3 separate regions of the Homo sapiens genome follow, and regions 1 and 2 are each linked to region 3. Evidence: fine-mapped expression QTL. A gene starts in region 3. Each other region holds a variant in brackets. All regions are shown on one strand. Distances are from middle to middle. Region 1 overlaps TBP (TATA-box binding protein). Region 2 overlaps LOC101929692 (a long non-coding RNA gene). Region 3 holds the start of PDCD2 (programmed cell death 2).

The links.
Region 1: its variant is fine-mapped to the expression of PDCD2 in fibroblasts (GTEx, PIP above 0.99).
Region 2: its variant is fine-mapped to the expression of PDCD2 in whole blood (INTERVAL, PIP 0.94).

What each region holds. Positions count from the first base shown.
Region 1 is chr6:170,554,932-170,560,116 of GRCh38, reverse strand. It overlaps TBP (TATA-box binding protein), which reads right to left. Exons shown (of 8, transcript NM_003194.5): 2 at 3,034-3,235. The coding sequence starts at 3,087. Among named protein-coding and RNA genes, the nearest start is that of TBP, 3.2 kb to the right of the region's middle. The variant G/A (reference allele first, on the strand shown) is at 2,220.
Region 2 is chr6:170,634,322-170,639,551 of GRCh38, reverse strand. All of the region lies in intron 2 of LOC101929692 (a long non-coding RNA gene), which reads right to left. Among named protein-coding and RNA genes, the nearest start is that of PDCD2, 52 kb to the right of the region's middle. The variant T/C (reference allele first, on the strand shown) is at 2,748.
Region 3 is chr6:170,582,114-170,587,343 of GRCh38, reverse strand. It overlaps PDCD2 (programmed cell death 2), which reads left to right and starts at 2,707. Exons shown (of 6, transcript NM_002598.4): 1 at 2,707-3,045; 2 at 3,597-3,839; 3 at 4,156-4,287. The coding sequence starts at 2,763. RefSeq lists a silencer at 2,738-2,977.

The DNA.
Region 1 (5,185 bases), 27 kb after region 3:
CTCCTTGTTCTTCTCCATCAGAGCTTGTGGACAACTAGTTACACTGTCAGTGAGTAATATTTTGAAATTAAACTTTTTTTCTGAGCAGATCTCAAAGAGCTTAAAATATCCAGTAAATCATGCTGTAAACAGACGTGCTCTCATCAGGTTTTGTTGTTCTGTTTACTGAGGACAGGCAGAGTAGATTTAGCGTAATTCTTAAGGCTCTATGGTTTTAGAGCAGAACATGAGCATTGGCTTCAATTTAAACTCACCAGCTCTATTAGCCCCTAACTAGTCAGCCAGTCCTCTGAAGCTTTGAGGCTAGGCACTGATTTCTCCTCTCTAGCTATAAAAGTCCTAGATAGCATCTTCTTCCAGTAGAAGGCTGTTTCATCTACATTAAAAATCTATTATTTAGTATAGTCACCTTCATCAATTATCTCAGCTAGATCTTCCAGATAACTTGCTGCTTCATGTTGCATTTTTATGTTGTGGAGAAGGCCTCTCTCCTTAAAGCTCTGAATAAACCTCTGCTAGTTTCAAAACTTTCTTCTACAGCTTCCTCTCCGCTCTCAGCCTTTACAGAATTGAAGAGAGTTAAGGCCTTGCTCTGTATTACACTTTGGCTTAAGGGGATGTGTGGGTGGTATGATCTTCTATCCAGACCATTCAAACTTTCTCCATATAAGCAATAAGGCTGTTTTGCTTTCTTATCACTTGTGGGTTTACTGGAGTAGCACTTCTAATTTCCTTTAAGAACTTTTCCCTTGCATTCACAACTTGGCTAACTATTTGGTGCAAGAGGCCTAGCTTTTAGCCTGTCTCAGCTTTCAACATGCCTTCTTCACTAAGTATAATCATTTATAGCTTTTGGTTTCAAATGAGAGATGTGCAGCTCTTCCCTTCATCTGAACACTTAATTAAAAGTCACTGTAAGGTTATTAATTAGCCTAATTTCCATATTGTTGTGTCTCAAGGAATAGGGAAGACCAAGCAGAGGGAGAGAGATGGGGGAATGGTTGGTCACGCTGCAGACATTTATCAATTAAGTTCCTGTATTATACAGGTGCAGTTTATGGCATTCAATAATAATTACAATAGTAACATCAAAGATCACTGATCACAATAACAGATAATAATGAAAAGGTTTGACTAGGCACAGTGGCTCATGCCTGTAATCCCAACACTTTGGGAGGCCAAGGCGGATGGATCACTTGCAGCCAGTAGTTTGACACCAGCATGGTGAAACTCCGTCTCCACTAAAAATACAAAATTTAGCTGGGTGTGGTGGCGCATGCCTGTAATCCCAGCTACTTGGGAGGCTGAGGCAGGAGAATCGCTTGAACACGGGAGATGGAGTTTGCAGTGAGCCAAGACTGCACCACTGCACTCCAGCCTGGGCAACAGAGTGACTGAAAAAAAAAATTAAAAAAAAAATACAAAAAAAAAGAAAAAAAAAAGTTTGATAACAATAACGGATAATAATGAAAAAGTTTGAAATCCTGCAAAAATTACCAAAATCTAACCCCAAGACATGAAGTGAGTACACACTTTTGGAAAAATAATGCCAACAGACTTGCTGGGTACAGGTTTACCACAACCTTCAATTTGTCAAACATGCAGTAAAGTGAAGTGCAGTAAAGTGAGGTGGGCCTGTGTATGAGTGGCTGACAAGCACTTGCCAAGGTGCTCAGAAACATTAGTAATCAGGCAAATAAAAATCAAAACCACAATAAGATACTACTAAGCAATCACTAGAGTGAAAGTAAAAAGACTGACAGCAGAAAGTGTTGGTGAGGATGTGGAGCAACTTAAATCTCTTATGCTGCAAAACAATACAGCCACTTCAAAAAACAGTTTGGCAGTTTCTTATAAAGTTATACATATACCAATATAGGACCTAGCAATCCTACTCCTAAGTATTTACCCATGAGAAGTAAAAACAGTGCATTCAAAGTCTACACAAATGTTTACAGTGCTTTTATTCGCAATAGCTCCAAACTGGAAAGACCCCAAATGTGAGCAACTGGAGAATGGATGAACTGTGGAACATCCAAACAATGGAGTGATACTTAGCTATACAATGGATTAACTACTGATATACAAACAGTACACTGGGCTAAGAAGTCAGACATACACAAAAAAGCATACACTCTGATTCCATCTATATGAAATTCTAGAATAGACAAAACTAATCTTCAGCATTGAAAAGCAGATGCAGTAGTTACCTGGGGCCA[G/A]CAGAGTGACTATAAAGGGGAAGAAGGGACTTTTTAAGGTAACTGAAATGTTCTGTAATTTATACATTATATATAATTATCAAAACAGACACTTAAAATGAGTTTTTTTGTATGTATATTTCAACAAAAGTTATTGATTTTTTTTTTTTTTTTTTTTTTTTTGAGACAGAGTCTCGCTCTGTCTCCCAGGCTGGAGTGCAGTGGCACGACCTCTGCTCACTGCAACCTCCACCTCCCGGGTTCAAGCAATTCTCCTTGCCTCAGCCTCCCGAGTAGCTGGGATTACAGGCACCCGCCACAACACCTGGCTAATTTTTGTATATTTTGTAGAGATGAGGTTTCACCACGTTGGCCAGGCTGGTCTCGAACTCCTGACCTCAGGTGATCCGCCCACCTTGGCCTCCCAAAGTGCTGGGATTACAGGCGTGAGCCACTGCACCCAGGCTGAAAAATTTTTAAAGTAGATGGGTGGTTGAGAGCTTGAAATGTAAAAGGGGAAAAATAAAACTAGAAAATAATTTGGTGAGGGTGATTTTCAAAATCAAAGACCCTATATAGTCATTTGGAACATTCTCATAAGTGTTTATCAAAAGATTAGGTGTTTCATAAATATATAACTTAGCTTCCAGACTTCCCAAATAAACACCATTGTGCCTATTCAAAGCCTAATAGAACTTCTCAACAAAATAAGGCTTAAAAAACATATTAAACCATTTTCAAAAACAGATCATTAAATGCCCTTCCTTGCCTTTTGATACCATCTCTTGCAGTTCAGATTTCCGCCCTCCCTATTCTCTCCCTCCTGCTATATTACCTGAGGGGAGGCCAAGCCCTGAGCGTAAGGTGGCAGGCTGTTGTTCTGATCCATGATGTTCACTTTCTTCTTGGCAAACCAGAAACCCTTGCGCTGGAACTCGTCTCACTATTCAATTTTTTCCTAGAGCATCTCCAGCACACTCTTCTCAGCAACTTCCTCAATTCCTTGGGTTATCTTCACACGCCAAGAAACAGTGATGCTGCTTTGGAAAAAAGTCTAAAGTTTAATTTAAGGATCCAGGTAACCTGTACAGTCCTATAAGCCAGTTCTATGGCTATACAAAACACAAACATGAAAACCAATGAAGCTATTTTGGAATACATTTGTTTTTACCTTATAATCCTAAAGTTTTATTCCTTCCATGTTTCCGGCGATTGCATGTAAAATCGCCAACAAAACAAAAATCATTTTGTTACATGTTTAAATAATCGGAAAATGCTCAAAATCGAGCTGTCATAACCAGCATTAAAAACTTTTGAGGAAAAACACCTAGAGAAAAATAATTCCTAAGCAAAATGTAATATCAGAGCAGAATATTCACTAAGCACTGTATACACAGCACTGTTAGGCAAAGTTTAGATCTTTAAATATTCCAATTTTACATCCTCTACAATGTCTTGGGCAAAAAATTAAGTAAATATCAAATTCAATCCAATATACTTCAGAGTGATCATTTATCAAGCTCCTACTGTAATGAAACTGTTAAAAAAAAAAAAGCCGCACAAAGATAAAGCCCTGAATTTTTATAAATGTAATAACCTTACCTCTTTAGAACACATTAATGCAAACTGTGCCTGTTATCTGACTTTTCTTAAATCATCATCGCTTTACTCACTACACATCTGAAATGAGTTTATAACAACATATTCTCACATAGAACTTAGAGGTCTCAAAGTTACAAATTATATGTCCAAAGATCCTTCAGGCATATGCACTTCAAGCATGTGCTGGTACAGAACAGACACTCAGATATTTGCTGAATGTATGAAAGACTCTGACGATCACTTTGAAAGGGCAAAGGCCCCCAAAGACTATCTATCCTACATACTCATCACTGAAAAACAGACCAAAAAAGAAAGCAAGCTCTGCTTCTGGAAATAAATATATCAGAGATATTTTTTAAAATATACTTTTTTTTTGACAGTTATCCTATAATAACAATAACAGAAGTCCTGCAGATGAGGATATAAAGATAGGAGGATATAGTCCTTGGCATCAAAGTGTTCAATATGAAGGGTATGCAAATAACTACTGTAAAACATAGTATTATAACAGCAGGTATGGTCTAAGCTAAGTTCCTTGAATGCAGAAACCAGCCTACATGTCTTTGTGATCTCTGCATCTAGCACTATGCCTGGAATACAGTATGTGATCATGAATGAGCCCATATACACCCCTGGAAGAGAAGACAATATAGACTAACAGCCAATCACTGTGAAGAGAGCGCAGTGTTTTCACAAAGCAGGGACCATCTAACTTGGGTCTCACAAGGTGAGTAGGAATTTACACATCAGGGCTTCAGACAAAAGAGAAATCAAGCAGAAAGAGACAGATTGAAAAAGCATGCAGTATGCAGGCAACAAGCTTAGTATGACTGTATAGAAGGTCACTGCAGCAGATGAGACAGCACATATTGGTGGGCTCATACTATCAGGAGTTTTCAATGTTATTGCATAGGCAATAATAACAGTTATGGAATTTCGGAAGTGCAGTATGAACAGATCTAATTTGGCAAGACTAGATGAATTTGAGAGGAGTAAAACTGGAGGACGGAAGTTTCGTTTCAGGAATCTAAGGTTGAGGCAAGAGATAATGACGGCAGGATTTAAAGCCATTATAAGTATGATTAGAGATTTATCCAGGACCTTCGGTGGCTTCAGGCCACTTTTTGCAAGTAAGTCTACAGAAGAAACCGCACAGTGATTACTGCACTAATTTATCCTCAGAAAAGAGTTGTTTGCTGGGTATCTTCATCTCCTGGAAATTGAAACATCAAATCCGATATTTTTTGGAGGCAATCAAATTAATTCTGCATAGCCTTCTAGTGTCTGTATAACTAAATGAAGCACAGTCTTTTCACAGAAAAGTCTACCTAGAGATTTGGAAAACCATGATGGCCTGAACCGAGAGACGGGAGACCCTGCAAATA
Region 2 (5,230 bases), 52 kb before region 3:
GAAATTGTGATTATGAAGATAATAATATGTACTAAAATCAATATTGCAATGTCACTATGAATAAATAGTATACAGTTATTCTGTTCCTCACATATTAAAAACAAAAAATCAACATAATATTATCACAACATGTGAGCTGCAACCTGATTTAAACCCATCATCAATACTTTCAGTGTAATGTCTGATCTAAAATTAACAGATTAGGTAAGAACAAGATTCCTGACTATCCATGAAATTCATCAGGTGTTTAAATGACCTGCGATATTAACTATTCCTCATTTCCAACATATTCCATTTGTACTTATACATATTCTTATAATTTCCTTCCCTTCCCAGTTTGTAGCCACAATTCTCTGACAGAAAGTAGACATAAGAGGAAAACATGATTAACAGATGGATTATCACCTGCAGTAAGAGGTGCCTGGGACGGACTTAGTTGAGGTAGGCTGTGGATTGAGACAGAATATAGAGACTGGGGTATGTGAAATCGGAAAGCCCACAACTGTAGCAGAACAGAGTAAGTGGACTTTCACAAGAAATAGAATCACCACCATTATCTACCACATTTTCTCATGCTCACTGCTATTTAAGTGCCTCAGTTTCTATACAATCTTTCACAATTACGAAGCCCTAAATGGCTTCCCATCCTGCAGTGATTTCATAAGGAGCCTATGCCACCTGTCATGTAAGGCTTTTTCCATGCCTAATAAATATGTTTTGGAGGGATTTCACCAGAGTTTTTGCTAAGATGCATAAAATGGCCACAGAGGTTGTGAGAAATCTCTGCAGTTTCTCTTTGTCTATACACATGAAAGTATTGAAGACCAGCACTTGGATTAGTTAAGATAATGTTTTAATTCATCGCTGTCTCCTCCTCCCCTTGGTACCAGCTTTTATGTTCATTGCATTCCCCATCCTTTTAAGTACTCAGTACCTCCTGCATGGTAACCTATTCTGATATTTGATATTATCATGCTTAATTTGACTGAATCCATTTGGATATTTTATCTTTAAGAAATTTGTAGTTTTATACTTTTAATTTATGATAAAATTAGATTAATATCAAACATTAACAAGTGACTTTTAGGAAGGTATATGAGCTTTCTTATTGACTTCAAACTATAAAGTACAAACTGTGACACTAGAAATTTAGTCCTTTAACACATGTTGTATTTATATGTGAAGTGGAGGGTGAGCAGAAAACAGTGTTATATTTCTCTGTGTCCAGATGGATACTCACCTCAATGATTTTCCTATAGTAGAAAGTAGTTCCTGAAAACACTTAATAGAGATTATTTTAGAAGTTGCTGAGGTACAAATAAAACTGCTATGCTGACATCATACTTTTTTGCACCAACAACTCCAGTTCTTCTGACACAAAGGACCATCTTCCTAGTGCCATAATTTATCTTAGACCCCAAAACTCACAGAGGCACACATCATATCTCTAATACTTGCTCACCACCACTGGCATGAGTCTCTCTCTATCCTCTTCTACGTGAAGTGATTATACTGTCACCTCTGGAGCTAACTGTCCACAGTCTCAAGATGCACACTTTTTACAACCAGAAGCCTATGGACTGGGTGAGGGAGCAGAAACAGCCACAGGTACTGCCCATCAGGGTAATGTAAGTCAGCATGCAAACAACTGATCAGATGAACATGAATAGCAAGGTGCTGAGGCACTGGGAAGAGGGACCGGAAAACTCTATAATTGTTGAAAAAGACTCAAGCCCTTGGGAAGGGAAATGCCTACGAAATTATATAAAGACCATTTTATCCAAGTTGGTCATCATTCAGATGAAAACCATGAGGCCCAGAAAAGTAAACTGAGTTTCCAGAATTCACACAATTGATAGAATAGGAACCAGAATTCAGGCCTCTTGCTTCCTATTCCAGAAAGACAAATTGCAATAATAATCAAATAATATGAGCAATCATCCAGTAAAAATAATCTAGTAAAAACAGCAAAACTCAAAAGAGTGATTTTTCCTGGTTAAGACCAAAACTAACCATAGATTGCTATACATAGTATCTATTATAAATACTGAATTATATAGCAGCCTGACAATAAATACATAAAATGTGTACACAAAGATTATTGAACCTGTACAATACAGTAGTAAATAGTAGCTTTATATTTGCAAAGTGACTGATCATTACTATCAGAATTTGTACCCATTCTTCATATTTTGTTGGTCATATAACCAGTTACTACAACTGCAAAAACAACCTAAGGTCATGTTTCTGTGAAGTCCATCCTTTTGGTCTTTAAATTTTATTATCCTCAAAGGTCAATTATGATCTCAATCTTTTCTTGTAATTTTACTGACAATTCTCCTTCACACTGATTTGTTCTTTCTCTAATTCCTGTAAATAGAAAGAACCAAAAAAAGTTGAAAAAACATGTATTGTACATATAACAAACAATCATATGTGGTATACAATATATATCAAATGAGTATTAAGATAAACATTCAAAGAGTTTTAAAGAAAAAAGTGTTATAGATATTGGAGGGCAGAAGAGACGATTGCCATTAAGAACAGGTGGAGGAGGTTATGCCAAGGACATTGACCTGACCCTTTAGGAATTAGTGAAAATTGAATAGGAGAAGAATGAGGTATACAATGTGTGAAAAATACCTAAATTGATATAACAGGAGGAGACCTTTTCATATCAATTATCATTACTTCTGTGTATATAACCATATTAGATACCCACAAATGAATAGAAAGTGGATAGTTCT[T/C]GATTGACAAGTAAGACTAATAATCCCAGATCATAGTAAGGTCTTAACTTCAAGTCAATAATCTTTATTACTTATGGTTCATTCCTCTCCCTCATGTTTTCCAATAATTTTAAAATGCATAATTAAAACAATTCTCATTTAAAAACATAGTAGCCATGACTAATGATCTTCCAGTGGGAAGGTACTAAGACTTTACAACATGTTTCTTGCTGGGGATAAGACAGCCTACAGCCAGCATTCAACTCATTTTTCTAAAGTCTATGGATCAATTTGAAATACAGAAAAAGTAGAACAGAGATAAAGTTAAAACAAGATTAAAAATATGGGAAGAATGGGAGAAAGGGGAGATTAGAAGATATGAACAATGATTTAAAAATAAAAGAGCCTCAAAGGAGAAGAGAAACTGCTAAGCAAGACTAAGGTAGGATGAAATACAGTAGTCTCTGTTTCTGAGAACACAGGTTAAAAAGAACATACATAAAATAAATTTATCACCTTTAATACACTCATTCAAGGATGCTACTGAGTTTGACTTTGGGAATTTCTCACCTTTAACACACTCATCTGGGGATGCTACGGACTTTGACATTGGGTTGCATTTAAAGGGGGAGAGAAAGGGCAGTTGCTTCTATTATCTGCCCTTTTGGACTCACAGAGTTTCTTTGAAAAGCACAGATGATAATAAATGGAAATATTGCCTTTTATACTATACAATAATATACACATGCAATTCACTGGAAAAAGTATACTCGTTACTATGATTTGAGGATACTACCATATACTAATCAAGAGAAACACATGTACAGAACAAAGAAGCCACATGAAATTTTTACTAGTGTGTGTTTTCCTTGTGTTCTACCACCCCAGGAGCAGCTTCTGCTACTGAAGATCACAGTAGAGTTATTTCCAAAAGTTGTGGGTCTGCAGGGTGGACTTATCACATAGCTGTTTGCCAAAATTCAAAAGTCCAGAAACCATTTCCAAATTTTCACCTCTTTTATCTTCAAATCCTAAAACTATGAAAATTCACAAACTTAGCTCCATATATTATGGTAGAAAGGTTAATAATTTGGACTTTGAGGTTGACCAGGCCTGATTTTTGAATAAATTCACAAACTTACCTCCATACATTATGGTAGAAAGGTCAATAATCTGGACTTTGAGGTCGACCAGGCCTGATTTTTGGATCCAGGCTGCAACACTCACTTGCTGTGTTAATGTAACAAAGTTCCTAGACCATGCTGAGCTTCAGTTTACTAGTTATTGAATTAGGGATATAGCGTTCGAAGGAAGAAGTTCTAGTATTTGATTGCACAGCAGAGAAATTATAGTTATTGAACTGGGGATATGTAGATAGACATAATAAATTTTAGTATTCAATTATACAATGGAGAAATCATAGGGAACAATAATTTATTATATATTCTAAAATAGCTAGCAGAGAAAAATTATAATGTTCCCAACACAAAGAAAAGATAAATATTCGAGGTGATGAATATCCAAATTACTCTGATTTGATCATTACACATTGTATACATGTATCAAAAATATCACATGTACCCCAAAACATGTACAACTATGATACATCAATAAAAAACAACAAAAAAACCAAAAGAATAGAAATCAAAAATAAATACATAAATACATAAAATAGGGATAATAATACCTCCCTTGTTTGCTTGCTCCCTTGCTCCATTTGTAAGAAATAAGTGATATAATATAGGTAAAAATACTTAACCTCATACCTACCACATAGTATAGCACAATAAACGTTATTTATTATAATCTGAGGCCTACCTACATAAGTGACTTTCAAGTATAGAAAATTATTTCTCAAATTTTAAATACTCCCTGATTCTCAGGTATGGTAATTAGACCTGGCTTTAGGTAAAGCTCTCATGTCTACACTTGGATTTAATCACTTAAGTATATTTCCCAGCGCCCCCCCCAAAAAAAATTGCTCCTAGGTGGACACACTAATCAAAGACTTCCTGAGAAATGCAGGAAGAAGTTTTGTCCTCTGACCACGCTACGCCCTTTCCTTGATGGTAAGCCCCATAATCTAAAGCCATAAGTTTCAATTCCTCACATAAAAAGAAAAAAAATGTCTTTTATGACCACTTCAGATAACACTGGATATTTCCCTTGTCATTAGGAATGAGAAATGGGAGGAAGGTAAACTTGTAGACAGGAGAATTGGTAGATGCTTGAAAGGATTTCTGAAAACTGTGCCTATCCAGGTGTACAAATGTGTTGACCAGCCAAGGCAAAGCAGTCAAACCATACAATACCTTATCCTCAGGAAAATGGACTTTTCTCCCAAATTGCCTTTTTCATGAAAAATATAAAATTCTCCAGTTTCAACCTCATGTTAAATTTCACATGTGAAGAAAACAGTCATGCACATCAGAAAATTAAATGGCGAGTCAAGACCAAATTCCTAGTCACAGTTATGTTCTGTTTCCAGTATTACCTTCTCACTT
Region 3 (5,230 bases):
TTATTATTTCAAGTTGGCAATGAAAAAAACAGCAAAAGTATATAGGACTAAGGATTCTAGGCTGGGTACAGTAATTCACACCTATAATCCCAGCACTTTGGGAGGCCAAGGTGGGAGGATTGCTTAAGCCCAGGAGTTTGAGGCCAACCGGGGCAACATATGAGACCTCGTCTCAAAGAAAAAAAAAATATGTAGAAAACTAGAGAGGATAAATTAAAATTCCAATAAGAAAAATATATTAACCTGGAAACCTACAGGAAATGGGTGATTGCCTAATAAAAATACACATGAACAAAAGGAATCCTAAAATAAGAAACATACAAATAGGCCAGTTAGTATAGAAAAGCTTGGAATGATGCTTAGACATCTCTCACTGGAAAAGACCCCAGGGACATACAGATTCAGAGTTAAGTTTTAACTGAACTTGGTTAAATTTGTTGACCTTCAGCAAATCCTGATTTTATTTAAAATGGTCAAGGCCTAGTTGAGGGAAGGGGAAAGAAGTGATTTTCTTCAATTACTTTTACGGTATAATTTCTGTGAAAGGAAAATAAAACTCAGGACCACAAAATCACTAAACCAAAGGGTAAAGTCAAGCTGGAAACTATGTCAGGCAAACCTGCCTCCCATTCTATTCCTAAATAAGATAGCTGCCAAGATAAGAGGCTACGTACCTCCCTTAAAATTTGCCCACAAGGAAATTCCTTGTGGATAAAGGACAGACAGAACTCAAAGTTATCCCTTTAAGGTGCGCCTGAGACAAATGCATATCTAATTGCTTCCCCTCCCCTATTGTTTACGTAAAAATGATAATTCACTGAGCCAGACTAAATTGTGTATTCAGTGGAAGGCTGATCAAGGACTCAAAAAAATGCGATCTTTTGCCTCTTATCTACTCATGACCTGGAAGCCCTCACCTCAAGTCCCGCTTTACCTGACTAAAGTACATCTTACACATACTGATTGATGTCTCATGTCTCCCTAACATGTATAAAAGCAAGCTGTACCCTGACCACCAAGGGCACATGGTCATCAGGGCCTTCTGAGGCTGTGTCACGGGTGCAACCTTAATCTTGGTGAAATAAACTTTCTAAATTGATGGATGCCGGATGTGGTGGCTCATGCCTGTAATCCCAGCACTTTGGGAAGCTGAGACGGACAGATCAACTGAGGTCAGGAATTCGAGACAAGCCTGGCCAACATGGTGAAACTCTGTCTCTACCAAAGATACGAAAATTAGCTGGTTGTATTGGCACACACCTATAATTCCAGCTGCTCAGGAGGCTGAGGCAAGAGGATCGCTTGCCTGGGAGGCGAAGGTTGCAGTGAGCCGAGATCATGCCACTGCACTCCTCCAGCCTGGGTGACAGAGCAAGATGCCATCTCAAAAAAGAAAAAAAAAAATTGATGGAGAGTTAACTTTTGGTTTACAATGTAAATGTTTATTTAAAAACAGACATTATTTTATGTACCATTACAAATATACTGCTACCCAGCTGCTCGGGAGGCTGAGGCAGGAGAATGCTTGAACTCGGGAGGCGGAGGTTGCAGTGAGCCGAGATCGCACCATTGCTCTCCAGCCTGGGCGACAGAGCGAGACTCCATCTCAAATAAAACAAAAACAAACAAATATACTGCCAACTAAACTGTGATTTTGTCAAAAATAAATGTTGTTGATGACTTTACTTCCATTAAAGCCACTGTAGTAGCCAAGGGAAAGCTTCCTTTTTGTCCTCTGAAGGTTCACTGAAAAGTCAACTGACAAAAGGCACATTAATTGGAGAAAGGGCATACAAATTTATTAACATGCACATGGGGGAGAACCAGAGTGATTTTGCTGAAGCCCCAAATGGGGTTCAGAAACTTATATACCATCTTGAGGTTACAGAATGGGGGTTTGGATTGTGGCATAACAGGTTATGCGGGTGGAGACCTGGCTGACAACCACGGTCTTGTTATGTAAATGAAACCTCCTAAGTAGAACTCCTTAAAGAGAACAGGTGGTACATGTTTCTTTCAGACCTTTGCAAACCAACAGTAAAATTCTAAACCCTCCAACCGACTGATGGACCCTCTGCTTGCCCAAGGGCATTCTGAAGTTAACCTGAAAAACTAGTTCAGGCAATGATGGGAAGTGGGGGTTGGCCATGCCTCATTATACACTCCTCCCTTGGAATTCAGGTACAGCAAGCCAGCACTAACATTAAAACAGAGACCTTAAGACTGACAGAAAAGACTCTTCTGCAGAGGCTTCTTCATTACTCTCAGGCACACAGGATTCTTGGTTTCCGCTGTAGGGTCCTCACTTTACCTGTTCAACCTTCATTTGTCTTTCACTGCCTACTCTTGGTTAGCACTCGGCCAGCGCACAGGTTTCCCACACCCTGAGGTGGACACCAGCAGGGAAGGTTTGCGGGAGGGCTCTGCCTCCCTGGCGGCCACCCGCAGGCCCACAGCAAGACATGTGCAGAGGTGAGCGGAGCGCCGTCACCAGCTGCCACTCTCCCAAAGACCAGAACCATCCCAGAGCACCCGGAGGCACCAGGAAAGCGGCTCGGAGGCAGAGGCGCCAGGGGCGGGGCTGATGCCGAGAGGTTTCCTCTGCCCCGTTCCCTCGCATTGGTCCTGCAACCGCTCCCGTCAGACGCGTTTCCGCCTCCTGTCCTCCGGAAAGGTGCCCGCCTCTTGCCTTCCGGCCCGGCGCCCGATTTCCGCCTTCCGACCCAGCTGTGGGCTGCGCCCCACGCCAGCCCGCGCCCCGCATGGCTGCCGCCGGGGCCAGGCCTGTGGAGCTGGGCTTCGCCGAGTCGGCGCCGGCGTGGCGACTGCGCAGCGAGCAGTTCCCCAGCAAGGTGGGCGGGCGGCCGGCATGGCTGGGCGCGGCCGGGCTGCCGGGGCCCCAGGCCCTGGCCTGCGAGCTGTGCGGCCGCCCGCTCTCCTTCCTGCTGCAGGTGTATGCGCCGCTGCCTGGCCGCCCGGACGCCTTCCACCGCTGCATCTTCCTCTTCTGCTGCCGCGAGCAGCCGTGCTGTGCCGGCCTGCGAGGTGAGCCGCCAAACGGGGTCGGGACGGGGCCATGCCTCCGACGCGTGCGCGGCGTTAATTCCGGGAGCGACCAGGGGGACGGCGGCAAGCACCGCTGCCGCCCCAGCCTCAGAGCTCCCTCTCCGCGCTGCCCCAGGAGCACCTTCTCCCGGGCCCTTCCAGGATGTGCTCATTTTTGCTACATAAGCTTCTAACTGTGCCCACGCGCATTGGTAACCCCCAGCTTTTAATCAGTGGGTACCAGGTATGGTGTTAATTCAGATAATAGAAATTGTCTTGGAAAGATGGATCCCAGTAGCTTTTTCGTATTTTTGGCAGTCGTTCTTAACGATCAGTCTTATTAATTTGATTAACTCAAACCACCTCTAGGAGGCAACTCAGTTGCGTGTACCGGACGAAATCTAGTTTCTGGATTTTAAAAGCTTATTCCTGAAAGCAAAAACTTTCATTTCTTTTTTGTTGTTGTTATTTTCAGTTTTACGTGCAGAGGATAAAATATGTGAATTGCTGTTTTGTTTGAAGATAAAACTTTTCTCTGTATTCTTTTTTAGTTTTTAGGAATCAACTACCCAGGAAAAACGATTTTTACTCATATGAGCCACCTTCTGAGAATCCTCCCCCAGAAACAGGAGAATCAGTGTGTCTCCAGCTTAAGTCTGGTGCTCATCTCTGCAGGGTTTGTGGCTGTTTAGGCCCCAAAACGTGCTCCAGATGCCACAAAGCATATTACTGCAGCAAGGAGCATCAGACCCTAGACTGGAGATTGGGACATAAGCAGGCTTGTGCACAACCAGGTGGGTAATCTTTTTTTTAAGTCTCAGTTCAGTTTCATCGCCTTTGTCAACCCAGATATTTCCAGGACAACTTTAAAGGTAAAATTAGGAAAGGTATAGTACTTTAAAATTTTTCATGCCTGGAACACCTTTGTAAAAAAAAAAAAAAGGCTGTGAAGTCTGAATCACTGAATAATGTCACCATATAGGCATTTAATTTATGACCCTTTATCTAAAATGCCAGAACTATAGGGAATATAGTACTTTAGAGACAGCAAATTATTAGACTGTCTTCAAAACTAAATGATTACTAATAGTGCTGTCCTTTTTGTTTCAGATCATCTGGACCATATAATTCCAGACCACAACTTCCTTTTTCCAGAATTTGAAATTGTAATAGAAACAGAAGATGAGATTATGCCTGAGGTTGTGGAAAAGGAAGATTACTCAGAGATTATAGGGAGCATGGGTAAGCAGTTTCAGGACTTCATTCATTAAGTGGTTAAACATAATACTTGGAAGAAAGGGCTCCATGTGCCTAGAAGAGAGGTACTGAGAGGAAGACTCACTTTGGAGGCTGTAGCATACAATTTTCAGATATTGCCTCAGGTAAAAATATACTTCCTGGACTTTGTTTTCTGACACATAAGAGGTGTGTTCTGCTCCCTGTAAAGACAAGGGTGGGTATCCAGATGGTCCCATGAGTAGGGCTGCACAAGATGCTGGAGGCTTGGTAAGTTCCTCTGGGTCGCAGATCGGTTTCTCGGGTCGGGATAGTGTGAGTGCCTAGCACAGTGTCGGGCACGCAGAAGGGCCCCTTAAAAGTTTCTCTTTCATCTGGCCAGTTTTAGATACACAATTTTGTCAGTTTACTTACAGTGCATACTCTTGGGTAGTACTTGTGCTGACCAAGTATCTTAGAGGCTTATTTTATTATAGTAGCCAACATTTATCCAGCACTTACCTTATATAAAGGGCTGTTTGTGCATGAGCTCATTAAAATCGTGACAGCAGACCAATGAGTGAGAAACTGCCCCATTTTGAAGGTGAGGAAATTGAGGTTCTGGGTATAACTTTCTTTGGTCACATAATATTAAATTTTACAATTTGAGCCTTGAGCCATACACAAAACCACCACAAAATTAGATTTATAGACTCAAAATGAAAACATCAGCTTACTGGTTTGTAGTTCATACCAGTCATACATTCCAAAACATGTTTTGAGTCTTACTCTGTGCCTGACCTTGTGCTTGATAACAGGGATATAATGGGAAGCAACACTCCAGTGGTCAGATGCTCACAGTCTTATGGAGGAGCCCAAATAATATCTGGGGAAGTTAAAGTCCATATAATGACTGATAAGAGTACAATACAGGTGCCATGGGAACACGTGACATCACTGAAGACTGCCT